Linked DNA regions of Homo sapiens. The protein of the gene in region 2 interacts with the protein of the main gene of each other region in a pairwise test. Each region holds a gene or a part of one and is shown on either strand. Other genes may lie near its edges.

Region 1 (7,709 bases), on a different chromosome or scaffold from region 2:
GTTCCTCAAAGACACTATTAAGAGGTGAAAAACCAAATCATGTTTGTAGATTATACATTATGTAGTATATAGTATAGGTTATATATAAAATATATATTACTTACACACATATATACATATTTATCTGGCAACAAATGAATGGAATCCAGAATATATCCAGAACTACAAATGAATTTCTAAAAAACAAACATCCCACTAAAATTTGGGGGGAAAAGCTGAATATGCACTTCATAAGAGTCATACTCTAATGGCTAATAATCACATCAAATATATCTGGACTCTGACTTTACTCCATTCCATGAGAATTTATTTCTGATGATTGGGAGATCTAGAAGAAAACTTAGAATATTATCATCATGAGTGCAAATTAGTTCAACCATTGTGGAAGACAGTGTGGCGATTCCTCAAGGATCTAGAACCAGAAATACCATCTGACTCAGCAATCCCATCACTGGGTATATACCTAAAGGATTATAAATCATTCTTCTATAAAGACACATGCACACGTATGTTTATCACGGCACTATTCATAACAGCAAAGACTTGGAATCAACCCAAATGCCCATCAATGATAGACTGGATAAAGAAAATGTGGCACATATACACCATGGAATACTTTGCAGCCCTAAAAAAGAATGAGTTCATGTCGTTTGAAGGGACATGTGTCAGCAAGATAACACAGGAACAGAAAACCAAACACCACATGTTCTCACTCATAAGTGGGAGTTGAACAATGAGAACACATGGACACAGGGAGGAGAACATCACACAGTGGGATCTGTTGGGGGAGGGGGGCTGGGGAGGGATAGCATTAGAGAAATACCTAATGTAGATGATGGGTTGATGGGTGCAGCAAACCACCATGGCATGTGTCTACCTATGTAACAAACCTGCACGTTCTGCACATGTATCCCAGAACTTAAAGTATTTTATATATATAAGTATTATATATATAAGTATTATATACATATAAGTATTATATATATAAGTATTATATACATATAAGTATTATATATATAAGTATTATATACATATAAGTATTATATATAAGTATTATATACCTATAAGTATTATATATATAAGTATTATATACATATAAGTATTATATATAAGTATTATATACCTATAAGTATTATATATATAAGTATTATATACATATAAGTATTATATATAAGTATTATATATAAGTATTATATATATAAGTATTATATATAAGTATTATATATATAAGTATTATATATAAGTATTATATATATAAGTATTATATATAAGTATTATATATATAAGTATTATATGTAAGTATTATATATATATAATATATAAGTATTATATATAAGTATTGTATATATAAGTATTATATATATAAGTATTATATATATATAAGTATTATATATATATAAGTATTATATATATAAGTATTATATATATATAAGTATTATATATATATAATAGTAATGGCATTGGGTGATTCAAAGATGTTTCTTAAATAATAAAAAGCACTACCCATAAATAATACACTGACTAATAAAATTAAGAGAATCTGTTCATCTAAAATACATTATTGAGATCGTGTAAAAGCAAAAAAGATTTATAGAAGATACTAAAATTGTATACGTATTTTTATATATGTACATATATGCCTGCGTGCATGTGTATATAACTCAAATACAGAATATATGGAAACTACAAATCCATTTTTAAAATACAAACATCTCAGTAAAAGCTGGAGGAAAATACCTGAAAAGGAACTTCATGAAAGACATAGTTAAATGACCAATAAACACATAAAATGGTGCTCAAAAAAAAAAAAAAACAATAAATAGCTGGGTGTGGTGGCACTGCAATCCAGTCTGGGTGACAGAGGGAGACCTCATCTCAAAAGACAAACAAAAATCAATAAATAAAAACAATTTTTTTAAAAAGGTGCTCAATCTCATTAATCGGCAGAGAAATGCGAGTGTAGACATAAGGAGAGATCACTGCACACCCATCGGAGTGGCTGGAATGAAAGACTAACTGTACAGCGAGTGTTCGAATGTGGCACAGCTGGAACCTTCGAATATTTCTGGACTTCCATTCCCACACAGACACCTGAGGCTGTGGCCGAAAGGTCAGATAGAGTCCCGGTGAAGAGTTCCTTCAGAATTGAGATCAACCCACCGAGGAAAAGCACCCCAACCTGGGTAGAGACAGAGTTCCCAAGGTCACGTGGCCTCCCTCATGGCTGACACAGAGCTCCCTGAGTCCCACCATAGGCTTAGAGAATCCAAGGAACAGCACCCCATTCCCCCGCAGCACCGGGAGAGAGCACCCACCACCAAGACAAAGCATCCGGTAAGCGTCCACATCGCGGATAAGCAGAACCAAAGAAAAGCCAACACATCCTAGCTGAGAGTGAGCGACATCCAAGGGCAAATGTGCCTCACGGACGACATCAGCACCCAAGGAAGAGTCCCTCGCAGGTTGAGATAAAGCCCCCGTCAGCGATCCCACAGGGCGGCGATCATGCGTCTGGGACACAGCCACCCCCACCATGTTCCATGAGAACAGATAGAGTCCCCAAGGCAGAGCCCCCGCTCAGGACTGCGACTGAGTGGGAAAGAAACAGCACCGCACCCGAGGCCGACACAAGCAACCAAGGCATGGCCCCCACCCCCGGGCTCAGGTCATTTCAGTAGGAAAAGTCCCTAGCATCACCGAGACAGAGCCCCCAAGAAAAGCCCCCCGGCCTCACAACATGGCTGAGACGAGGTGCCCAAGGAAAACGCTCCCCCGCGGCTGACACAGGCGCCCATGGCGGTGTCCCCAGAGCTGAGCCACTTCCCCAAGGGAGCCCTACCACACACCAGACAGAGAACACCACAGAAAAGACTCTTTCTGAGGAAAAAGGACACTTTCTGGGGTGAAATTAAAGCATCCAGGGAAAAACTGCCCCACTCACAGTCCTTAAGTCCTGACCTTGCTGGAGGAGAGACAGCAGCACCTCACAAAATGGCAGTGAAGTTGTGGCGCCTCCCCACTGGTGGCACTTTCTAGAAACCTGCCCTCTGGGAGTTGTGGGAAATGTGCCCCCTAGGGCACCTGGGAGTGATGTGCATGGGGAGGCGTCTCACCAGAAGCACCGATCCCGTTTGGTCCAAAGGGGATGGAAGGAAGGGAAGCAGCCAGCCACAGTGTGCTGGCCCAGCCGAACACTGGGAACCTGTTGGGGGCGCCAGAATCCTGAGGTGAAGCCTCGTGCCCCAGAGAACCAGGAAGCGCAGCCCTCCCCTTCGCTGACTGGCGCCCTCTACAGGCGACCTTCAGTAACAACTGCACAGCAACATAAGCAGAGGAACGCAGAACCTTCTCACACAGTGGGATGAAATCGCCTGGGTAACATAGTGAGACCCCGGCTCTACAGAGCAACCAACCAACCAAAAAAAAAAAAAACACACACAAAAATTAGCTGGGCATGGTGGCGGGCGCCTGTGGTCCCAACTACTCGGGAAGTTGAGGTGGGAGGATCGCTGGAACCCAGGAGGCAGAGGTAGCAGAGAGCCGAGAACGCACCACCGTACTCCAGCCTGGCCATAGAGGAGACTCTATCTCAAAAAAAAAAAAGGAAAGAAGAAAGAAAGAAAGAAAGAAAGAAAGAGAGAGAGAGAGAGAGGAAGGAAGGAAGGAGAAAGAAAAGAAAGAAAGAAAGAAAGAAAGAAAGAAAGAAAGAAAAAAAGAAAAGAAAAGAAAAGAAAGAAAGAAAGAAGAAAGAAAGAAAGAAACGACAACATCAACAAACTGAAATCTTCATTGGATGGGGTTGTGTTTTAAAGTCAACCCCAACGGGCGCTGTGGCTCGCGCCTGTAATCTCAGCACTTTGGGAGGCCAAAGCAGCTGGACCACCTGAGGTCAGGAGTTCGGGACCAGCCTGGCCAACATGGTGAATCTCGTCTCAACTAAAAATACAGAAAATTAACCGGGCGTGGGGCGCGCACCTGTAGTCCCAACAGCTACTTGGGAGGCTGAGGCAGGAGAATCACTTGAACTGGGGAAGTGAGGTTGCAGTGAGCTGAGATCACACCACTGCACTCCAGCCTGGGTAACAGAGCGAGACTCTGTCTAAAAATATAAATAAATAAATAAATAAATATAAATTCAACCTCTATCTGTTAAAGGTAACAGTTGTTAATTGATAAGAAAAATGAGGGCCACAGTGTGGTGGCTCATGCCTGTACCCCAGCACTTTGGGAGGCCAAGGTGGGTAGATTCCTTGAGCCCAAGAGTTCAAGAGTGGCCTGGGCAGCATGGTGAAACCCCGTCTGTACACAAGATACAAAAATTAGCTGAAAGTGTACTTGTGGTCCCAGCTACTTGGGAGGCTTGAGACCAGGAGGCTTGAGACTAGGAGTTTGAGGCTGCATTGAGCTTTGATCGCATAGCCTGGGTGACAAAGTGAGACTGTCTAAAAAAAAAAAAAAAAAAAAAAAAAGAAAGAAAAAAAGAAAGGAGGGGAAACCTTATTATATTGCATCTATTAATCATTTTAATCTGGAACTTTGTATATTTTTCCACCTTTTTTATTTTTTTTGAGACAGAGTCTGGCTCTGTCACCTAGGCTGGAGTGCAGTGCCATAATCTCGGCTCACTGCAACCTCCGCCTCCCAGGTTCAAGTGATTCTCCTGCCTCAGCCTCCCCAGAAGTTGGGATTACAGGCATGCACCACCATGCCCGGCTAATTTTTGTATTTTTAGTAGAGACAGTGTTTCACCACATCGGCCAGGCTGGTCTCAAACTCCTGACTTCAAGTGATTCATCTTCCTTGGCCTCCAAAAGTGCTGGGATTACAGGTGTGAGCCACCACGCCCCGCCCATTTTTCCACTTTCATAACTTATTTTAAGTGCAGCAAAATTTACTTGAATTGTTCATAGTGGCAAAAAATATTACAGCGAAAGTTTTGGAGTTTTAATGGAACAAGCAGTTTCACTCTTGACACAATTATTTGGAAGGGATTACTTCACTGGTTTTGTAATTCAAAAGTTATGTTTGTAAAAAAAAAATTAAAAATATAGCCAGGCATGGTGGTGGGCACCTGCAATCCCAGCTACTCGGGAGGCAGAGGCAGGAGAATCACTTGAACCTGGGAGGCACAAGCTTCAGTGAGCAGAGATCGAGCCACTGCACTCCAGCCTGGGCGACAAAGGGAGACTCCGTCTTAAAATAAATAAATTAAAATTAAAATTAAAAATTATGTTTGTTAAGTACCCTGTCAGAAGAGAGTCATTTTCAGTATTATAGCTTCCTAGCCTATTGTATTAATATTTGCCTGTGTTTCAGAACCTTTACAGAACACATTTTCTTTTGGAATATATTTGATTGATAGGAAAGCTTAAACATTGTTTTCACTTCGATGTAGGAACACAGTTGTTTTGTTTGTTTCTTCTAGTGTTATCAAAATGAAATACTCATTTTTGCATTAAAAAAATCCCACCACAGCAGTACTCATATGAGTATTTGATTGAATAACCATGAGACTGGAATCTTGTTGGGGCTTAATTAGAATCCTGCCTACCACACAAGCCACAAGTGGACAGCTGCATGTGACAGTCCTGACTGGGACAGCCCTGAAGGACAGTGATGAAGGGAAATCCTCCCAGAGGGAAGAACTTTGAGCAGTGCACCTTCTTGGAGGAGGCATATCCAGACGTGTAAGTATGTACCATGCATAGGCTGTGTCCCACTCATTCGCTGAATTGTCAGGGACATTGAGGACACATGATTAAAAATTTCTGTCAAGGACGTCTGAGAAAAAAAAACAAATATGTGGACAGACCTTTCCAAGTGGACATACAATGTGAAGATATTGGGGTCTCATGAGAGTTCTCAGCAAAGGGTATCCTCAGCAGAGCAGAATTTAATAATCAGATGGATAAGGTACTTATTATCTACATATTAATTAGCCTCTTTCCCCAACACTTGTGTCACAATCTTATGGGCTCAACAAAGTGGTCAAACTGTCAAGGATGGAGATTATGCGCAGTAGCATGGACTTCCACTCACCATGGCAAACCTGGCTACAGTCATTGCTGAGTGAACAATCTTCCAGGAATGGAGACCAACACTAAGCCCCCAATTTAGCACCAGACTCCAAAATGATCTGCCAGCCACTAGTTGGTATGTGGATTACAATAGATCACTTCTATTGTAAAAAGAGAAGTGCTTTCTTCTTACCTCAACAGACATTTAGTCTAGATATGGATTTTCCTTCCCACTTGCATTGCTTTTGAGAAAACCAATATTTGTATCTTGGCTTCCAAAATTCTGGAAAGCGCTAGTTCCTCAAGTTCCTAGGGTTATTCATTCTGGAGACTCTAGTATACTCTGCAAGAAAACCTGTAGGCCATCCACCAGAATGCCCAAATGGAGTCACTCTTAAATAACAAGCCCTGCATGTTTCCAGAAACTCTATTTATCAGTGACAAGTTTACTATGGCAGCCATTTCGCCACCCAGGACAGTTGGAGAATGGCAGATATTAGGGACCATTAACTCTGTAAAATCTATAGAAGACTGCAGTGAAGAATCACAGTTACAGAACGAAAAGTGACAGTCTTGTATTTTGGATGTTTGTTCAAAGAGGATATACAATTAATAAAGTGGTCAAGGAATAGGTTTCACCTTTAATACTAAAAACTAACATAGAAACTTGTAAAGGTGTCAAAGTGTAGTAATCCTTTTCATGTATATCTGGTTAAGATTTAAAACTGAAGCTTTCTTTTTTAACCTTTTTAAAATTATAAATACCAGAAGGGTACACGTACAGTTTTCTCACTTGGGTATAATTGCATAATGCTGGGGTTTGGGCTTCTAGTGAACCCATCACCCAAATAGTGAAGAGAGCATCCAATAGGTAGTTTTTCAACCCTCCAACCCGCTCCCTCCCTCCCCTCCACTTCCCTTTTGGAGTCCTCAGAGTCAATGGTTTCTACCTTTATGTTCATGTGTACCCATTGTTTAGCTCCCACATATGAATGAGAACATGCAGTATCTCATTTTCTGATTATCTGATTTTGTTTCTGTGTTTCACTTAAAAGTGAAGTTTTCGCCAGACACAGTGGCTCACGCCTGTAATCCCAGGATTTGGGAGGCAGAAGTGGGTGGATCGCTTGAGGTCAGGAGTTCCAGGCAAGGCTGGCCAACATGGCAAAACCACATCTCTACCAAAAATACAAAAAATAGCCGGGGCCTGGCGCGGTGGCTCACGCTTGTAATCCCAGCACTTTGGGAGTCTGAGGTGGGCAGATCACTCGAGGTCAGGAGTTTGAGACTAGCCTGGCCAACATGGTGAAACCCTGTCTCTGCTAAGAAATGCAAACAATTAGCCAGGTGTAACAGTGCATGCCTATAGTCCCAGCTACACAGGAGGCTGAGGCAAGAGAACTGCTTGAACCTGGGAGGTGGAGGTTGCAGTGAGCCGAGATCGGACCATAAACTTAATCAAATTGTTGTTCCAACTGCAGCTGCTGTACTGCAGGTGGTTTTGTTGCGTCAGCAACCGTGACATCCCTGGCAACCTGATATATAATATTAATTAGGTGAATGTTTTGTTTACTTTCAGTAGTTGTCATAAAGAAGAGTTTGGGTCCAGCTAGAAAGGACAGCAATGTACTATCATCTCCTCTTTCAACCTTATATCAACTCTCAAGGTTTATATCCTAAACGAGTCCTTAG
Region 2 (7,025 bases):
TCTCCCTTCCTCCTTCGGCTAATGACTCCCTCTTTCATTGACAAAATAGAAGACACCAAATGAGAGCATCTTAGCTTCCAATTACTGAATCCACAAATTTGCATATATATATATCCATCTTTCTTTTCTTTCCTTCAGTTAAAATGGAAGGACTGTCCTTCCTTTCGAAGGCATGTCCTACCATAATTGCTATGAATTCTTTTCTTCAAGAATTTTATTCCTTCAGTTATCCCCTCTCTGCGTCATCATTTCAATCAGCATCAATTTTTTTTCGTTTTTCCCATTGTTCTTCCCTAGATCCTTTGCATCCCTGTAGCTAACATTCCATTTCTCTGCTGCTTTCTAGCTAAACTTCTCATCAAAGTTATTTATTCTTACTTTCTCTACCTTTTTATTTCCATTTGTTTTTCAGTCCACTTGTCAAGGTCTTTAAATACTTTTTGCCAAATTTATTTGGCGTTTTTATATCCACATTCTACTTGGCCTTTAGGTACTATTTGATAGGTAGCCCCTCTCTTCAACATTCCTACTTCTTGGTTCTGGTATTCTTCCAACCCCGTGGCCCTTCTTTGTCAGTCTTTTTGACAGCTCTTCTTCTTGCTCTTCTCAGCCCGTAAATGTTGGAGTTCCTCAAGATGCAGATAATCTTCCTGGGCTTTACTCCCTGTATTTTTTTCTCATCATTCTCTTACTAAATGATTTTATTTATTCCCCATAGTTTTAAATACTATCTATAAGCTGATCAGTGTGTGTGTCCAGACTAATCTCTAAACTTCAGAATCACATACCAAACTACCTACTTCAGTTACCTACTTGGATGTCAAACAGGTCTTTTAGATCTCAAATGTCTAAAATTGAAATCTTTACTTCCCACCCACAATTGTCCTTCAGGCTCCTACCCACTTCCCACCAATCCACATTTTAATCAGTGGCACTGCTAAAAACCTGGTGGTCATCCTTGATTCCTTTCGTTCCATCATCCTTCGCACACACATATCACCTCAGGACACCATCTCTGGCCTGCACTACTCCAGTTACTTTATTATTCCCCTGCCTTTTCCCCTTAGCCCTTTCCAATTCATTTACCTTGTAAGTCTGCCGATCACACAGTCCGTCTCACTTAGAATGTAAAATCCTTACTGTTGCCTTCATGGTCTTGAATAAGCAAGTTCCTGCTTACCTCTCTGGCCTCTCATTTCATGGTATTCTACATGTATTTATGATATTGTTCATCTGTTCTCATTCATGTTCATTCTTATTCATAGTTGCCCCTCCCCTTCTATCCGCAACAACCTCTTCTTAGTTTCTAGAACGCACCAAACTCTTTTTGCCTTGGAGCTTTGGCACTAATTTCCTCTTCCTGACATGCACTACCCTTGCTGTTCACTTAGAATGCTATCTTTGCCTGTTAATTTTCTTTCTCACCACTTAACTATAAGTTCCCTGTGGGCAAGGATCATGCACAGCAAAGACCCAGTACATAGCACAGTACTTGACACATAAGCATTTAGTAAATATTTGTTGAATAAATGAAAGCGTGGTCAATAAAAATCTCCTAGGATTTTATGAGACAAACTGATGTCTATTCTTTACCTTGCCAAATAACCCCAAGGCTTCCTCCCGAGTAGCTGGGAGTACAGGCTCCTGCCGCCACGCCTGGCTAATTTTTTGTATTTTTAGTAGAAATGGGGTTTCACCATGTTGTCCAGCCTAGTCTCGAATTTCTGACCTCATGATCCACCCGCCTCGCCTCCCAAAGTGCTGGGATTACAGGCATGAGCCACCGCGCCCAGCCTGCTTTTTCTTTAAATATACACAAGTTCTGTCACCCAGAAATACTTCTTATATGTACAAAGATTTCCATTGCTTATTGTTTCTAACAATGAAAGTAGAAATTGATAAAATATGGTTAATGGGAACACTTCTGTGTTTAATAATGATATATATTTAATGACAAAGATAAATATCTGCTATGTTAAGTGAAAAAAAAGCTGCAAAATATATGTGACAGTACATTTTTCAAAGGCAAAAAATACTTGGAACTTATATGCAACTATGTGTGTATGAGTAAATGTGTGTGTATTTGGTTTTATATAAAGAATGCCTACAAGAATACACACCAAATAGTGTATTTAAAAAACAAGTTAGAGAATAATACATATTGCATGATCCTAATTTTGTTGCAAAATAAAATTTTAAAACTGTGCACTGTTGTAGTGTTCTGCTTTTTAAGGGCCAAACAATACCCATCAAACCACTGGCCTTGATTTCCTATGGGAATTAGAGGTGGGGTACTTGCATTTTTTTACTTGATGGACTTAGTATTTGAAATGTTTATAAAAAACATTTAATACTTTTATGAGTTTTTTAATGGATAAAGATAATTAAGAAAGGGGAAAATTATTACAAAAATTATCCTAACCAGTGAAATTCACCAACAGCTAAAATTTTAACATATATACATGCCATATTAATATATAGAATCATATATTAACCAGATTTTTTTCTTCTCACCTCTCCCCCACAGGAATAAATGAAGAAGAGGAAAAGAAGAAAGAAAAAAGCAAAGAAAAAATCAAATTGAAAAAAAAAAGGAAAAGGTATTTTTTGAACAACATTTTAAAAAACAAAGCAGGCCTATGAGTTTAGGATGGATTATAAAATTTTATTTTTTGTGTATAATAGTTAATTTAATATTTTTTCTTCAACAACTAAGCTTTTCATTGAGCTTAAGTTTAAACTCTTAATATATATTTTGTCTTCATATACATGAAATTGACTAAAATATTTGTATTCTTGTAATATTACCATGGCTAATAAATTAACTTATTAATAGAATTTAATAGAACTTGTCATGCTGTCCAGGTGCGATGGCTCATGCCTATAATCCCAGCACTTTGAGAGGTCAAGGCAGGAGAATGGCTTGAGCCCAGAAGTTTGAGACAGGCTTGGGCAACATAGGGAGACCTCATCTCTGCAAAAAGTAAAAGAAAAATTATCCAAGTGTGGTGGCATGTACCTGTGTTCCCAGCTATGTGGAAGGCTGAGGTGAGAGGATTGCTTGAGCCCAGGAGACATGATCACACCACTGTACTCCAGCCTGGGCAACACAGCAAGACCCTATCTGCCCCCCGCCCACCAAAAAAAAAAAAATATATATATATATATATATATATGTAATTATATGCACATACACACACCTTTGTATTTATATGTATTTAGCCTGACAGTTTCATATATATATATATATATGGTGGCTGATGAGGGTTGTGAAAGACCTGAAGGAATTTTTAGCATCACAACTTCCTTCCAGTCTTCGGCCACCTGTGCATTTTTACTATTAACTCTTTTAAAAACTAACTGGTTAAAGAAGTTATTGAAAGTAGTAAGTGGCCACTTCTCTTGTTAATGCGTGCAGTTTCATTCATACTAGCATAAATTTGCACATACAGGCATTTTTTAAAAGCACTTAACCATAATTATTTCTAGTTTAGACCCAGTTCTCATACAGAATAGGTTGTAGAAACCAGGGGCTGCCACTTTGTAGTTTTTATAGAGCATTTAATACATGTATTTTAATATTTCAGGTATCTTATAAATTGGAAAAGTAGCCCACTTTCAAGCGTTAGGAGTTAACTAATAATCTTTAATATAAAAACAAATAGGAATTTAGAGCTCAGGGTTTTCTGTTAATGTATTATTAAATCATTTATTCTAGCACAGGAAGATGGATTGCTCACAGGAAATGATATCTGATAGTCTTCCAAATTCTAATACAGATAGTTCCCAATTTATGTGGTTTGATATGATCTTTCAACTTTATGATGGTGCAGTAGAAATGTACTTCAAGTACCCATACAACCATTCTATTTTTCACTTTCAGGACAGTATTCAATAAATTACATGAGATATTCAATGCTTTATTATAAAATAGGCTTTGTGTTAGATGATTTTGCCCAACTAGAGGCTAATGTAAGTGTTCTGAGCATATTTAAGGGCAGCCACGTTAAGCTATGATGTTCAGTAGGTTAGCTGTATTTTGTGTATTTTCAGCTTCAGATAGATTTATCAAGGCGTAACTCCATCATAAGTTGAAGTACATCTGTATATTTCTTTTTTTTTTTTTTTTTTGAGACAGAGTCTCGCTCTGTTGCCCAGGCTGGAGTCCAGTGGCACAGTCTCAGCTCACTTCAAGCTCCGCCTCCCGGGTTCACTCCATTCTCCTGCCTCAGCCTCCCCAGTAGCTGGGACTACAGGTGCCCACCACCATGCCCGACTAATTTTTTTGTATTTTTAGTACAGACAGGGTTTCACCGTGTTAGCCAGGATGGTCTCAATCTCCTGACCTTGTGATCCGCCTGCCTCAGCCTCCCAAATATTTTTTATAGTAACAGATTATTTATTTGGGCCTCTTTACCTTGAGCATCACAAACCTGAAATTAAATTAACTTTTCTGTGCACACTTAGCAGAGATAGTGCCCCCTGAAAGTGTTGCTATGCCACAGCCTGAAATTTTGCCTTAAAAAGGAGACTTCAGGCCAGGCACGGTGGCTCACTCCTATAATCCCAGCACTTTGGGAGGCTAAGGTGGGTCGATCACCTGAGGTCTGGAGTTTGAGACCAGCCTGGCCAACACAGTGAAACCCCATCTCTACTAAAAATACAAAAAAAATTAGCTGGTGGATTACAGGTGGGTACCTGTAATCCCAGCTACTTGGGAGGCTGAGGCAGGAGAATTGCTTGAACTCGGGGGAGCGGAGGTTGCAGTGAGCCGAGATCACGCCATTGCACTCCAGCCTGGGCAACAAGAGTGAAACTCTGTCTCAGAAAAAAAAAAAAAAAAAAGAAACAAACAAAAAAAAAAACTTCAGGACCAAAAAGCTAAAGAAAAAAGTGCAGGCAGGGAAGAAGCTTTAGTCAGAATCCAGAGGTCAAGTCAAACAGGGTCTTTAAAAGAGGAAAATAGACAAGATTTGAGAATAACAACTGAAGAGGCAAGGGTGCAGGAGAATACATGAGAAAATAAGCTTTAACAGATGATTGGAAGTCTAAGTAAGTAGACAAACAAGGAGGAAAAAGGAACACAACATTACAAAAATAAGGGAAAACTCGGAGTCACTAAAGGAGGAAGGCAGTCAAGGAATTCACACACTATACAGACACAAAATAGCCTTGGAGCCCTGTAGTCTCCTGAATTTACATTGGCACCTCCTTTATATCCGTCTCAGATTTTCTTAGTTTGAGTTTTAACTCCTAATATTTAGATCACTAAACTAACTCTTTAGATACCTTTGTTTACATTTTAAATTAACTCAGTTTCTGTCTTGTCACTCATATTTTGAGTTTGAGTATAGGTAGAATGTTGCACATCTCTTTAAGTAAGATCTTAAAAGATAGGGTTTTCTGTTTTTTTCTTTTTCTTTTCCTTTTTTTTATGAATATTAGAGGAAGGAATTGAACCAATTTTTTCAATTTAGTATTAGAGTAATATTTTTCAAAAGCACAATGATAACCCATCCTTTTTCATTTATATATAGCATAAAAGCATCCTTTTGTAACTAATGAAAATTATTTTGTAATGCAAGTATTCATCTGTATCACTCTCCGTCTAGAGGGATCAAGTACTTGAAAAATCAGAAGAATTACCAAAAGTGCTTTTATTTTGCTAACTTTCAGCTTTCATTCATTCATATGAACGTACAATTATAGCCCTTTAAAATAGAGAATTGCAACTTTTGAGACACTTTTAAGAAAATATGCGAAGTTATTGTATACACAAGTGAATATAATAAGGCTTGGTGAATGCCCCTTTGTTTGCCTTTTAGGATTTTGAATGATATGACTGCATGAAAAACCAAAAATCACAGAAAAATAATTTCATCCTTATTGACTTTAAAACTCATTACATTAGTATTGAGTGGAATAGATACTAGTTTTGTTGGTTTCTGTGACCAAGCAGCAAAAATTCTAAATTCATCGTTTTAAGGGAATGCAAATATATGAAGCATTTTTTAAGTTTATGTTTATACTCCCTACCTTACTCCAAGAAGAATTTAAGGCAGTTCAAATCCCACTTAAATTTATCTATCAGTCATAAATGCAATTCTCAGTCAGTATGTATTATTATCCATAGGTCTTACTCATCCAGTTCCACTGAAGAGGACACTTCAAAACAAAAGAAACAAAAATATCAGAAGAAAGAAAAGAAAAAAGAAAAAAAGAGTAAATCAAAAAAAGGGAAACATCACAAAAAGGAAAAAAAGAAGAGAAAAAAGGAAAAGCATTCTTCTACACCTAATAGTTCTGAATTCTCCAGAAAGTAACTGAGACTTTGGCTTAAGCCGTTAAATTTAAAAATTTGTTTTTAAAACGTGTTTGCCCTTCCTTGGAATTTGCTATATATTATGCTTTGCAATAAATCACAGCCTTTTCCATATAGACATTTTTCGTATTTGGGACCATTATCCCTCTGGCAATATATTTTTAATGTGCTGTAACTGTAAAGTATTAAATCAGTCTTGTTACTTGATAGCCATGCCCCAAGTATAGCTATTTGTGTATACTAAACACATCATTTTTGGTATTTGTGTCTCTGTGTGTTTGGCTAGTGTTACTACTTCATAAGTTCATTGTAAAATGGCTTTACTGCCATCAACATGGGTCATCTACCTAGCAGTTAATGAGTATTGCTGGATCAGGTGTCCACCTTCCAATGATGAAGCAAGGTAAGGGGTAATGTTTTGCTCTTGACACAGAGAAATTTAATAGCTTTATGTACTAAAATATAATATCTTTTAAAGATAGTGAAATTCTTCAGTTTTTTAAATCTCTAGGGATTTTTTTTCAATGTTGTAGAAGATGCAGCTGCTTAATGGTCTTGACTAGGACTTTTTAAATGAATGGTGTCTGCAGGTAGATGATCATGAAAATATCTCTAACAAAGTTTTACTCTTCTATGAAATGCAGAATTTCTAGTACCTGCCTCCTTTGTTTTTGTAATAATTAAAATACTTCTTGTATAAAGA
Region 3 (7,025 bases), on a different chromosome or scaffold from region 2:
TATTTAAAGCCCAACAATTTTTTTTTTTGAGACAGTCTCCCTCTGTTGCTCAGGCTGGAGTGCAGTGGTATGATCTCAGCTCACTGCAGTCTCTCCCTCCAGGGTTCAAGTGATTCTCGTGCCTCAGCCTCCTAAGTAGCTGGAATTACAGACGTGAGCCACCATGCCCACTAATTTTTTGTATTTTTAGTAGAGATGGGGTTTCACCATGTTGGCCAGGCTGGTCTCAAACTCCTGACCTCCGGTGATCTGCCCGCCTCAGCCTCCCAAAGTGCTGGGATTACAGGCATGAGCCACCACAACCGGCCCCCATCAATATTTTTTAAAATCATTTTTATTACTTCAAAGAAGTAGATATGAATCCTTTTTTGCTTTTGCCTTTTACAAATTTTATTGTGACTATTTTAAAACACACGCCAATGAACTCCCACTTACCTGTCACCCATATTCAACATTTATCAAAATTTTGCCACATTTGACTCACATCTCTCGTATTTTTCTTGTAAAAATATTTTAAGCCCAGATATCATATTATTTCACTTACATATTTTATTGTGCATCTGAAAAAATATGAACATATTCTTACATAGTCACATTGCCGTGACTGCACCTAACAAAATTAATAACTATCATTTGGCATCATGTAATTAACAACTCCATAACAAAATTTTCCTGATTGTCTCTAAAATGTATTTTTACAGTTGATTTTGAGAATAAGGATCCAACACACATTGCATTCAGTTGTGTTTTCTCTTTTTGTCTATTTTAAACTGGTGCAGTCTTCCCTTCTTTTTTCCCTGCCATTTACTTGTTGCAGAAACTGGATCAGTTATGCAGCAGAAATGTCCAACGTTCCGAATTTGTCAATTACTTCCTTCTCATATCATTTAACTTGTTCCTTTATTCTCTGTAAACTGAATTTGGCTCTAGAGGCTTGATTATAGCCAAGTTCAACTCTTTAGGGATGCTTATGTCTTAGATGGTACTGCAGTCAGTTCACAGAAATCAAACTTTTGAGCTGTTCAAGAATAATAATTTTAACTCCTATAAGGCCCATCACTTACCACCTTTCTAACCTATTGGAGCTTGGAGCTCTTTCCTCCATGTTTGGAACTGTTTTTAATATAAAGTCCGTGTTTTCATAAAAACATTAGTTTAAGTGAAGTACCCAGGCTAGGCAAACAAAAGATTGATTTAATCCATGCAAATATTGTGTAATTGTGATAAAAACAAGAAAAATATCTTGTCACTATTAATAATTAATATGACAACAAAATATCATGAGAAATCATTTAGAAATTATTTTGGATGTCAATAATGTAAAAAAAACCATGTAGAGGATGAGAAAATACTGAGGAATTTCGCAGCAATTCTGAGAGTTACTTTAGAGCACTTTTAAGAGTTTCATAGGATTTTTATTGATTTCTAATTTAATTTTAAAGTGAAATTTTGGCTGGACGTGGTGGCTCACACCCTGTGATCCCAGCACCTGGGAGGCCGAGGCAGGTGGATCACTTAAGGTCAGGGGTTTGAGACCAGCCTGACCAACATGGTGAAGCCCCATCTCTACTAAAAATACAAAAATTAGCTGGGAGTGGTGGCATACCCGTGTAATCCCAGCTACTCAAGAGGCTGAGGCATGAGAATTGCTTGAACTCAGAAGGCAGAGGTTGCAGTGAGCCAAGATTGCACCATGGCACTCCAGCCTGGGCAACAGAGTGATACTCTGTCTCAAATAAATAAATAAATAAATAAATAAATAAATAAATAAATAAATAAATAAAATTTTGCTTTCTCTTGGCATAGGCATAACACTACTCTTTTTTTTTTCTTTTGAGGGAGGGTCTCACTCTGTCACCCAGGCTAGAGTGCAGTGGCACGATTATGGCTTACTGCAGCCTTGACCTCCCTGGGCTCAGGTGATCCTCCCACCTCAGCCTCCCAAGTGGCTGGGACTATAGGTGTGTACCATCACTCCTGGTTAATTTTTGTATTTTTGTAGAGATGAGGTTTCACCATATTGCCCAGGCTGGTCTTGAACTCCTGGGCTCAAGAGATCTGCCCACTTCGGCCTCCCAAAGTGCTGGGATTGCAGGCATGAGCCACCGCACCCAGCCAACACTATTCTTTTATTTGTCATTTATAACTACAGTTATTTTAATTTTCATTTTAAAAAATTTCCACTGATGCTTCATTATTCTATGTGATGATTCACAGTATATATCTAGCTGGTATACTCGACCACTTAACTAATGTGATCACTCATCAAGTCTTATTTTTCTATCAAATTTTGATATATTTCCTTTTAAAATACATTTTTGATGCTAATTTTTTATCCTACATATTTGAAATCCAATTTAACAAATTGAGTGCCAATTAAGTACTAAAAACTTGTCCATTAGCATTGGAGGATACAAAAATATACATGAAAAAAATGTTCTCTTTTCTAGAAGCTTATAATCTATTGGATAACCAGAACATAATAGGGTTGATTTGCTCAGTCTGAATATCCATCACAGCATAGTGTGGCATCCAAAGGAAACACAAATCCAATTCCAAAAACCCTGAGAAATAACAGGAAATTACCTCACATAACACTACACAAAACTCAGCCATATGTTTTGTTTTGTTTTCCCACTCATTTCTCTTCTTTTTGAGTATCATAGTTAGAGCATAAGTTACTTCCTACATTGCAGATGGATCTTGGAATTTATTTAGCTTTCAATTAATAAAGGAATTGAAATTCTTTTTGAAAAAACTATCGGTGGATCCAACTTTTAAAACCTTTTTAAAAAGTTGATATATAACATACTCTATTAAGTACATTAATTTGTCTTTAGCTTGATAACATTTTACAAAGTGAGCACCTTTATGTATGCACTTTTAGATTAAGATACTGAATATTTTTATCACTCTAAAAAGTTCCTGTATGTCCTTTCCCAGTCAATCCTCCCACAATCAGATGCTGTTCTGATTTCTATAATTCATGTTTTCGATAACTGTGAGTTTTAATCTAATAGGGCAAGCTAACCATCTGTACTTTTAAAACATTTATCTGCTGGCTATTCTTCCACAGAAGTTTTACTACCAATTTGCTAAGTTCTGTAATGACATAGTGAGGAGATTTTATAAATAATGTTTGTTTGTTTTTTTGAGACAGAGTCTTGCTCTGTTGCCCAGGCTGGAGTGCAGTGGCACGATCTCAGCTCACTGCAGTCTCTGCCTCCTGGATTCAAGCGATTCTCCTGCCTTAGCCTCTCGAGTAGCTGAGATTTCAGGTGTGCGCCACCACGCCCAGCTTATTTTTGTATTTTTAGTAGAGATGGGGTTTTGCCATGTTGGCCAGGCTGGTCTCGAACTCCTGAGCTCAAGTGATCCACCAGCCTTCACCTCCCAAAGTGCTGGGTTACAGGTGTGAGCCACCGCACCTGCCTAGAAAATGTTATTTTTGTATTACAAAGATTTTACTATAAAAACCTTATAAACAAAATTAGGAAGAAAATTTAAAACTACTTTAGAGCATGGTTATATATTTTTAAAACATCTGTTTACATACAAATGACATTAATTTGTTTACCCAGTTCCAGGTCCTATGCAATTTTAAAGTTTAAAACTTGGGCTGAATGCGGTGGCACACACCTATAATCCTAGCATTTTGGAAGGAAGAGGTGGGAGGATTGCTTGAGCCCAGGAGTTTGAGACCAGCCTGGGCAACACAGAGAGAGTTCATCTCTACAAAAAATTCTAAAAATCAGCCGAGTGTGGTGGTGCACACCTGTGATCCTAGCTACTTAGAAGGCTAAGCCAGAGGATAGCTTGGGCCTGGGAGGTCGAGGCTGCAGTGAGCTGTGATCACACTACTGCACTCCAGCCTGGCCAACAGAGCAAGGCCCTATCTCGAAGGAAAAAAAAATACTTAAAAATTACATTTCTTTAAAAATACATTCTTTAATTCAGATTTTTCTTCATTAATTCCTACTTGGCTCAAATTAAATATAGTTAAGAAATAGTTAATATAAGACATAAAATTAAAAAGGCACTATAACAGATAATCTAATTTAACCTATTTTTTCAGATGGGAATACTCAGGGTTCAGGTAAGTTAAGTGACTTGCTGAAGGCCACACAGCCTTGTAAGAAGGATGGAAGCTTCTGCCTGCTCCCTGTTTATATGGGGTATTTATGTGCCTTACATCCAGATTACTGACTAAATAAAAGTATTAATATATTTAGTCAGCCATCATATACCTACTAGAAAGTCTGCTCATGTAAACCAGAAATATTACAGAACTCTACCTTACAAAGGAGTGATCACAGCATGAAATTTCTGTTAGAAATACATTAGAATTGGAAATACTCTCTAGGAAATGGCCAAAAAACGATATGATGAATGAAACTGTAAGTGGTCGGAGAAGCACATAAATGTATATGTAATTTTGAAATGTATTGCTCCATTAGCCAGCATTTCAGACCCACTTATTCATCTTATTTTTTGCTCTGTGAAACTGTCATACTAATAGTTATGTCTCAGATTCAATTATTTTAAAAATAGAAAATGACTTCACACTGAATTGCCAGTGGTTTCCTGTTTGAAGAAATAATAAAATAGTCCTACTGCAAATGCAGTTTAAGTCCCAGCACTATAATCCACAAGACAACTCTTTTAGATTTTTAAAAACTAATTCATGACAAAAGCTTACACATTTTAATGGTACTGAAACATTGGGTTGACTAAACTGCATTTTATTTGTCTATTTTTATTTTTACCTGCCTTTTATTCTGTTGTCATAGCATGCAGTTTGCCCTGAATCAAAATTTGTTCTATTACTTTAAGATATATTGTAGACAATATACATATGTCCTTACCATGATTCTTCAGTCTACTCAAAAATAATAAATTAAAAGCTAAGATAGTTGGAAATGATCTTCTGATAGAATATAATGGGCCATTTATTGAAAACAAAATTGCCAAACATCTAGTTAGCTTAATTATATCCAGTTGCAGTGATTTATTTGATAAGGACATTAGATATTAGGCGTTGCTATCATAATAGCAAAAGTGGGAGACCTTATTCATTGTCCTCCATCAAACACTGTTCTTTTCATAAGACATATTATTACATTTACAAAACTATAAGTGTTACATGAAAGCCTTATCTATAGGTGACAGCAACTCCAAATCAATCCTACCTTAAATTGTTGGTCACCTAACTCAACACAGTGTAATTTGCAGAAAAAAAAAAATCAGTTGCTGCTATCCCTTTGAAAAGCACCTGAACCAACCCCTTAGAAGAGGACTTCTAAGGAAAAGCTTTGTCTTAACTTCAAGTTTTTTGGTTTTGTTTTATATATGCATAAATATAAATATATAAATATAAATATATGTATATAAATAATTACTGCATAAGCTAAGATGGAAGGGAGGAGGATTTATTTGCCTTTCCATGGCTTTATTTAATTTTCCAAAGTTGATCCTTTGTAGGTTATGTTAATATCACTTCTTAATTTTTTTATTTTTTATTTTTTAGCACAAACACATTTATTTATTAACCAAAGGGATGATCCTAATTAATCTGATACTGAAACAGCTGCATGTAAAATGTTTGTGATAAAGATAATTGAACACAGTAATGAAAAAAAAGAAGCAGTATGGAGATTTGCCCATTGAACTGAGCTTGTTGATTTTCATAGCTATTTCCTGTCCAAAGTGATGATGAAATTTTTATTCTACTTTTTTATAGATCTGAGAACAGGTGACATTGTTCATGACACAGTCTACCATGAATTTCCCATCTTTCAATTTTCTTGTTATTGTGCTTTTCTTCCCATCCCACTCCTGATGCTGAACCAATGATCCATCTGTAAAGTTGTAGAGAGTCTGAGTTTTTTTGCTATGAGCTGTAGTTTCTTCAAACTTCTCTCCCAGGGTACGAGAAAACTGTGCTGTTTTCTAAGTGCTCTGAGTTTTTATGGTGAGGTTTTTGTCATCACAAATGATGATACACTCTGGCTTGGCCATTGTGCCCATTTTTCACAAAGCTATTCCCACTCCTAGTTCCTTCACGTATTCATCAAGGCCTTTGCTGTCCACTAGGCATCATCTTCCATCTGCTGAACAGTGGTCATGGTGGGCATAGGAGGGTGTGTGGAGCAAGCTTAGCAAGGTCGGCATGGGCAGCGCACTGTGAATATCACTTCTTTAAATCAGGATGAAATGCTCTTGATTAAGCAAAAAGAAGTTTCTGTTGTTGAAACAGGATGTGAAAAAATTATTAAATGCAAGATGAGTTGATTGTTTACTGTGTGCCAGGCCCTGTGCTACCTACTAGGAAATAGGTGTAAGCATGAAGATCCTGCTTCAAGAAGCAAAAACTGTAAACTTAGACACCAATGTCGGCTTTCCCCTTAACTCTTTTGAACTCAGTTTTTAAAAAATCTGTAATTTGGGGGATATAAGGTTTTTATAAGGTTTTCTATCATGGTTTAATGAAATGAAAGCACCTGTAAATAATATGAATTTAATAATTTTTTTAAACTGTTTTTTTCTCTTGAGAAGTTGATTATCTGGGGGAGATTGGTGCTGGGGAAAGGACACAAAACCATCTTAAAATTCTTTTTTTTTCTTAATAAGCCAACCAAGTACACCTTATTTCCCAAAGTCTGAAGCCATAAGCAGGTTTTTAAAATACAGGAAGAAATAATCTAAGATTATTTAAGCAAATGGTTTTAAAACTTTAATGTGGAAATTATTCTCCTGGAGAGGCTTGTTAAAATGCAGATTTTGGGGTGGGTGTGCTGGCTCACTCCTGTAATCCCAGCAGTTTGGGAGGCCGAGGTGGGGGGATCACTTGAGCTCAGTAGCTCGAGACCAGCCTGGCTAACATGGTGAAACCTCGTCTCTGCTAAAAATATAAAAATTAGCCAGGTGTGGTGGTTCACGTCTGTAATCCCAGCTACTTGGAAGGCTGAAGCAGGAGAATTGCTTGAACCCAGGGGATAGAGGTTGCAGTGAGCCAAGATCATGCC
Region 4 (7,662 bases), on a different chromosome or scaffold from region 2:
TGCCGAATAGCTGGGATTACAGGCACCCACCCTGATGCCCAGCTAATTTTTGTATTTTTAGTAGAGACGGGGTTTCACAATGTTGGCCAGGCTGGTCTTGAACTCCTGACCTCAAGTGACCAGCCTGCCTTGGCTTCCCAAAGTGCTGGGATTACAGGTATGAGCCACTATGCCTCACCCAGCCGAGAATTTGGATTATCTCTAGAATTTGTTTGAAGAAGGGTTATTGGTCAATCAATCCTTTGCATTTATCAAAAGATTGCTTTGTAAGTAGCTTGCAGGTACATCTGCTCTCTGCTGTTTCTGAAGAACCTCCCCAAAACCAAAACCATAGTTTTCCTCCACCAGCTCCTATGATACCTAATATATGCTAAACAATAAGCATTTATTAGTGTCTAGTAATTGATGATGGAAAGACTTTCTTGCTAAAAAACAACCTGTCTCAAAGGGGGAAAAAAATCTCTCTAAAATTATCTGCTCAGGAAGCTCAAGACCAAGAACTCAAACATGCTCAGCTCTCAGTCAGAAATTACAGAGATGCAGTCATATGTGGAACTCTGCACTGCTTTTCCCGTAGCAATGCACCTCCTATTACAGAGACTATTTTGGAAAATCCTAAATAACTTGGTTTGTTCCAAGATGTAGCCAAACGCTAGGGCACTGAGGAGTTTCCAGGTCTCAAGACACTTGTGTTCACTCTACCGTGGAGAACTTTAAATAAGAAAGACGGGGAGAAACAGGTTAATCACAGTGTTCTCCTATACTATGAAGGAATCAAAATGGGAACAATGAAGTCCACTTACTTGCATGAATTTCAGACCAACAAGGCGGAATCCTTTCTGCTCAAAACGCTTGATAATCTCTCCCACAAGACCCCGCTGGACCCCATCTGGTTTGATCGCAATGAAGGTACGCTCACAGTTGGCCATGGTTCTGGGGATAGGCAGGTAGAGGAATGAAACAGCAGTGAATCACTTGCCTACAGCGTCATCCGTCTCAAGCGGATTATCCCATAAAGCTGGTTTAAATCTGTCAGGTCAGCTCCAGGTCTCCCTCTGGTAAAAACCCAATTCCTCCCCAGTCCCCTGATCTATGAACTAATATGTCAATGTGGGAAAGGATCCAAAAGCAAGGACTATAATTTCTATCCCATTTGATTTATTTTATTTTCATTTGTTTTGGTTTTTGTGGGGTTTTTTTAGAGATGGGGTTTCGCTATGTTGCCCACGCTGGTCTCGAACTCTTGTCCTCAAGTGATCTGCCCACCTCAGCCTACCAAAGTGCTGGGATTATGGCCATGAGCCACCACACCCAGCCCCATTTGATTTTTTTTTTTTTTTTTGGTATGGAGTCTTGCTCTTTCGCCCAGGATGGAGTGCAGTGGTGCGACCTTGGCTCACTGCAACCTCCACTTCCCAGGCAAGCAATTCTCCTACCTCAACCTCCTAAATAGCTGGGACTACAGGTGCGTGCCACCACACCCAGCTAATTTCTGTATTTTTTTTTACTAGAGATGGGGTTTCACCATGTTGGCCAGGCTGGTCTCCAACTCCTGACCTCAAGTAATCTGCCCACCTCAGCCTCCCAAAGTGCTGGGATTAAAGGCGTGAGCCCCATGAGCCTGGCCACCATTTGATTTAATAAGCTTCTTTTAAACATCTACTGTGTACCAAACACTGCGGTGGAACTAGGATACAGGATGTTAAAAACAAGGCACTATCTTTCTCAATAATCAAGCTTGGGAGAAACTACACTGATGAAAAGTTTTACTAATGTGAAAGTGATGTCCGGTACAAAGCAGTAAGAAATAATAGTTTGACTTAATGCCACAGCCATAGCATTAGGGGTTTTAGAGAATATATCTTTACAACCCCCTTCATTTTACAAATGAGGAAACAGGACCACAGCACCAGAATGAAGGCCAAAACCCAGCATTCCCAACCCATTAATCCATTCTTGTAATGTTATGCTACACTTTACAATGCAAAGAATATTTTGACTAGCCAATAAACGGTGGGGTGTGGGAGAACTACAGACATTAGGAATATCTGATACGGGACATCATACTGAAAGGAAGCCTAGAGAGTAACTATTCCGTCCAGATCCCTCATTTTACAGAAGACTGCGCTCATGACCTACCCTGTATCACAGCTTGAGATAGGAGGCCCCTCGCCTTGAAAGACGATCCCTAAAGTAGACAGTAGCACCATCTCTTGGCCCCATCTTCCTGTCCTTTAGTTAACCTCTTCTTACAGCATCTTAGCACTGTAGTCCAATTTTCTGTTTGTGTGTCTGCCTCCCCTGCACACCAGGCTGACTTAGTCCTGTGTAGAGACTCTATGGTACCTAGCCACAGGGCCTAGCAGTCAATAGGAGCAAAGAAAATCATTTATCACCATTCTGCAACTTCCAAAAAAAAAAAAAGAGAGAGAGACAAAGCCCAAAGACTGCGGAGAATCGCACGATGGGGTGCGGGGCAAGCATAAATTGTCCAGGAGAAAACAGGACTAAAGCGCCAGAAATACACCCTAAAAATGTCCCTCCACATCGGTCCCGGTGACACAACAGTAAGCACTCAGTGCTTGCTGAATGAATGACACACACACCCGTCATTTATTCAGCAAGCACTTACAGAGCGCCAACTCCGTGCCCGGCACTGCTCTCGACAGACACAAATAAGGCACAGCCCTGTCGTCGCGGCCTGACGAGAAAGGCGGCCACCGACAAAGGCGAGTCCACGTGGCGTGGGACGTGCGCCGACCGGTCTGCACTTGTCCACAGGCGCTCCCTGCCCCTCCTCCCATCCGATCCTCCTCGCCGCCTCTTAGAGCTGAACTCATCTCTTCACTAACTCCTCACCTAACCCACTCCCGCGACTACACTCCTTTCTTTTTCCTCTCAGGATCCCGAACACCTCTTACCCTTCCAGCTGCTTAGGTTTGAACTCCGGCTGCAGCCGCCAGCACCCGAAACGCGCCCGGGACCCACGTGGTTCGCAGCACTTGCACGCACGGAACGCTTCTGCGCAGATCCGCTGCCGGAGAGCCCATTTTGCAGAACACCGCTCGCCCACGCTTCCTCTTGGGAGTAGGCAGTCATTCTAGGGAACAACTTTCTGCAGTTTAACTTCCGGCGCTAGCTTTTTCAGACCTTTCCGGTTAGCTGCTTGCTTTCTTCTCTCCACCCCCGGGTTCTCTGACTCACTTCCTTCGTTCGCGAGCAAATTGGCTTCCCGAGAGGTGGCGCTCACACGTTGCGTGAAGTCCAAAGAGTGCCTGACCTAGAAGTAGACTTTTCGCTCCCGCTTTGTGTTTATTCACCTTTTCTAGCCTGTCAAGCAAAAAATTTTGAGTACCTACTACGTGGACGCATTATTCTAGGCCCTAGGGATAAAACAGTATGCTCTCTTGGAGCTTCTGGGAGGGATGGGAGTATAGGAAAACAAGAAGCAAATAAGCAAATTAATATGTAATAGATCGCATTTTGTAAGTGCTGTGAAGAAAAGGCCAGAGAAATCTCTGAGTAAGTGATAATAGAATAGACCTGCATGAAGTGAGGGAGCCAGCCCAGTGATTCTTCGAGAGCCAAGTATTACGGTGGACATCGAGTGGTGGAAAATGCCGTTAGAATAGAGCCAAATCTTATGTTGTGAGATGCTAATACAGATTTTGCACAAGGCATGACATCATCACTAACAAAAAAACATTCCCACTGCTCTAAGGGGAAATGAACGGGGGAAAGGTACAAAAATGGAATCAGGAGCCGTTTCAACAAATGATGCTGGAGCAATTGGACGAATATAGACCCAAAGAACCTCAACCTAAACCTCTCACCTTATACAAAATTTACTCAAAATGAATCATAGATTTAAATGTAAAACAATAAATCACTTATGGGGAAAAAAAAAGTTAAAAAAAATCCTCAGGACCTAGGGCCAGGCAAATAGTTTTTAGACGACACCAAAAGACCAATCTATACAGGGAAAAAGTTGATAAATTGGAACTTACTGAAATTTAAAACTTTTGGCCGAGCGCGGTGGCTCACGCCTGTAATCCCAGCACGCTGGAAAGCAGCGGCGGGAGGATCACTTGAGCTCAGGAATTCGAGACCAGCCCGGGCAACATAGTGAAACCCCGTCTCTACTAAACATACAAAAATGAGCCGGGCGTGGTTGCAGGCGCCTGTAGTCCCAGCTACTCGGGAGGCTGAGGCAGGAGAATCGCTTGAACCCGGGAGGCAGAGGTTGCAGTGAGCCGAGATTGCGCCAGGGCACTCCAGCCTGGGTGACAGAGCGAGACTCGGTCTCAAAAAAATAAAAAATAAATAAAATAAATAAGTAAAATTTCATTATTCTCCTGTTTTCTTTTTTTTCTTTTTGAGACCGAGTATCGCTTTGGCGCCCAGGCCGGAGCGCAGTTGCACGATGTCGGTTCATTGCAAACTCCGCCATCCGGGTTCAAGCGATTCTCGTGACTCAGCTTCCCGCGTAGCTGGGACTACAGGCGTCTGCCACCACGCCCGGTATTTTCTTTTTCTTTTTTTTTTTTTTTTTTTGAGACGGAGCCTTGCCAGGTCGCCCAGGGTGGAGTGCAGTGGTGCGATCTCGGCTCACTGCAACCTCCGCCTCCCGGGTTCAAGCGAATCTCCTGCCCCAGCCTCCCGAGCAGCTGGGATTACAGGTGCCCACCACCACACCCGGCTACTTTTTGTATTTTTAGGAGAGACGGGGTTTCACCATGTTGGCCAGGTTGGTCTCAAACTCTTGACCTCGTGATCCGCCCGCCTCAGCCTCCCAAAGTGCTGAGATTACAGGCATGAGCCACCGCGCCTGGCCCTAATTTTTGTATTTTTAGTAGAGACGGGTTTTCACTATGCTGGCCAGGCTGGTATCGAACTCCTGACCTCAAGTGTTCCATCTGCCTCGGCCTACCAAAGTGCAGGGATTACAGGCATGAGCCACCGTGCTCGGCCTTTATTTATTTATTTGTTTATTTATTTATTGAGATGCAGTCTTGCTCTGTCACCCAGGCTGGAGTGCCTTGGCGGATCTCAGCTCACTGCAACCTCTGCCTCCCACGTTCAAGTGATTCTCCTGCCTCAGCCTCCCGAGTAGCTGGGACTACAGGCGTGCACCACCACGCCCGGCTAATTTTTGTATTTTTAGTAGAGACGGGGTTTCACCATGTTGGCCAGGCTGGTCTCAAACTCCTGACCTCAGGTGATCCGCCCACCTTGGCCTCACAGAGTGCTGGGATTATAGGCGTGAGCCACTGTGCCCTGCAGAAAAGAAATTTAAAACCTTTGTCCTGTGAAAGACCTTTTGAAGAGGACGAAAAAACAAGCTAGAGTGGAAGGAAATATTTCCAAACCACATATCAGATAAAGGCCTTCTCTTCATTTGAAGGTTTGAATATTTGAAGAACTCTGAACGCTCAACAGGTTAAAAAAATCCAATTAGAAAATGGGCAAAAGACATGAATAGACATTTCATTGAACAGGATATACAGAGGCAAGAAAGCACATGAAAAGATGTTCAACATCATTAGCCACCAGGGAAATTCAAACTAAAACCAAAATCGGATATTACTACATGCCTATCAGAATGCTAAAATGAAAGTAGTGATACACCAAACGCTATTAAGGAGGTATAGAAACTGGATCCACATTACTGGTAGGAATATAAAATTGTACAGCCACTCTGAAAAAGTTTGATAGTTTCTTTTTTTTTTTTTTTTTTTTTTTTTGAGACGGAGTTTCGCTCTGTCGCCCAGGCTGGAGTGCAGTGGCGCGATCTCGACTCACTGCAAGCTCCGCCTCCCGGGTTCACGCCATTCTCCTGCCTCAGCCTCCCGTGTAGCTGGGACTACAGGGGCGCGCTACCATGCCCGGCTAATTTTTGTATTTTTAGTAGAGACGGGGTTTCACCGTGTTAGCCAGGATGGTCTCGATCTCCTGACCTCGTGATCCGCCCGTCTCGGCCTCCCAAAGTGCTGGGATTACAGGCGTGAGCCACCGCGCCCGGCCGATAGTTTCTTAAAAAACTAAACATGTGCTTACCATATGACCCAGCCATTGCACTGTTGGGCGTTTATCCAACAGGAATGAAAACTTATGCTCTGTTCACACAAAAACCTGTGCGCAAATGTTCATTGCAGCTTTATTTGTAATAACCAAAAACTGGAAACAACCCAAATGTCTTTCATCATGTGAATGGTTAAACAAACTATGCTACATCCATACTGTGGAATGCTACTCAACAATAGAAAAAAATAACAAACTATTAATACATGCAATATACATAATTCCCTTGGATAGATTTCAAGGGAATTATGCTGACTGAAGAAAAGCCAAACATAAAAAGTTATCTATTGTATTATTGCATTTAACATTTGTGAAATATTAATAACAAAAGTATAGACATAGAGGATAGACTAGTTTAGTGGTTGCCAGGAATTAGAGATGAGGGAAAGGGCCAGGTATGGTGGCTCTCACCTGTAATCCCACCACTTTGGGAGGCTGAGGCAAGAGGATCTCTTGAAGCCAGGAGCTCAAGACCAGCCTACACAGTATAATAAGATACTGTCAGAGGCTTTCGAACCAGAGCAACTCCATCTTAAATAGGGGCTGGGTAAAAAGAGGCTTAGACCTACTGGGCTGCATTCCCAGGAGGCTAGCCATTCTTAGTCACAGGATGAGATAGAAGATCGACACAAGGGCTGGGCACGGTGGCTCATGCCTGTAATCCCAGCACTTTGGGAGGCTGAGGTGGGTGGATTACCTGAGATCAGGAGTTCGAGACCAGCCTGGCCAACGTGGTGAAACTCTGTCTCTACTAAAAATACAAAAATTAGCCCGGCGTGGTGGCGCGCGCCTGTAGTCCCAGGTACTTGGGAGGCTGAGGCAGAATTGTTTGAACCCAGAAGGTAGAGGTTGCAGCGAGCTGAGATCGCACCACTGCACTCCAGCCTGAGCAACAGAACAAACCTCCGCCTCAAAAAAAAAAAAAAAGATCAACATGAGACACAGATTACAAAGACCTTGGTGATCAAACAGTGGTAAAGAAGCCGGTCAAATCCCACCAAAACCAAGATGGCAACAAAAGTGACCTCTGGTCACCCTCACTGCTCATTATATGCTAACTATAATGGATTCACATGCTAAAAGACACTCCCATCAGCACCATGACAGTTTACAGATGCCATGGAAACAACCAGAAGTTACCCTATATGGTCTACAAAGGGGAGGAGCACTCAACTGGGGGAGAGGGGAAATTGCCCATCCCTTTCCCAGAAAACTCACAAACAATCCACCCTTGTTTAGCATATAATCAAGAAATAACCCCTCTGCCTGTAGAGTAGACATTCTTTTATTCCTTTACTTTTTTTTTTTTTTTTTTTTTCAGACGGAGTCTCCCTTTGTTGCCAGGCTGGAGTGCAGTGGCGGGATCTCGGCTCACTGCAACCTCTACCTTCCAGGTTCAAGCAGTTCTCTGCCTCAGCCTCCCGAGTAGCTGGCATTACAGGCACCCGCCACCACGCCCAGCTAATTTTTGTGTTTTTAGTAGAGATGGGGTTTCACCATATTAGCCAGGATGGTCTCGATGTCCTGACCTCGTGATCCACCCACCTCAGCCTCCCAAAGTGCTGGGATTACAGGCATGAG

Evidence for each region.
Region 1: the proteins of SREK1IP1 (region 2) and CT45A1 interact in binary tests that used the Homo sapiens proteins (3 or more experiments, as listed by UniProt).
Region 3: the proteins of SREK1IP1 (region 2) and SPMIP2 interact in binary tests that used the Homo sapiens proteins (3 or more experiments, as listed by UniProt).
Region 4: the proteins of SREK1IP1 (region 2) and NME1 interact in binary tests that used the Homo sapiens proteins (3 or more experiments, as listed by UniProt).

Annotation. Positions count from the first base shown.
Region 1 is NC_000023.11:135,708,940-135,716,648, reverse strand, and holds the start of CT45A1 (cancer/testis antigen family 45 member A1), read right to left. Parts: upstream 3,011-7,709; 5' UTR 2,959-3,010; exon of another isoform or gene 2,942-2,958; intron 1-2,941.
Region 2 is NC_000005.10:64,723,682-64,730,706, reverse strand, and holds part of SREK1IP1 (protein SREK1IP1), read left to right. Parts: intron 1-2,527; coding exon 2,528-2,600; intron 2,601-6,133; coding exon 6,134-6,323; 3' UTR 6,324-7,025. UniProt on the Homo sapiens protein: Possible splicing regulator involved in the control of cellular survival.
Region 3 is NC_000004.12:159,025,223-159,032,247, reverse strand, and holds part of SPMIP2 (protein SPMIP2), read left to right. Parts: intron 1-5,523; exon of another isoform or gene 5,524-6,185; intron 6,186-7,025.
Region 4 is NC_000017.11:51,148,922-51,156,583, reverse strand, and holds the start of NME1 (nucleoside diphosphate kinase A), read right to left. Parts: upstream 3,026-7,662; 5' UTR 2,922-3,025; intron 2,360-2,921; exon of another isoform or gene 2,211-2,359; coding exon of another isoform or gene 2,140-2,210; intron 934-2,139; coding exon of another isoform or gene 930-933; coding exon 804-929; intron 1-803. Other genes in the region: NME1-NME2 protein, read right to left, coding at 804-929. UniProt on the Homo sapiens protein: Major role in the synthesis of nucleoside triphosphates other than ATP. The ATP gamma phosphate is transferred to the NDP beta phosphate via a ping-pong mechanism, using a phosphorylated active-site intermediate.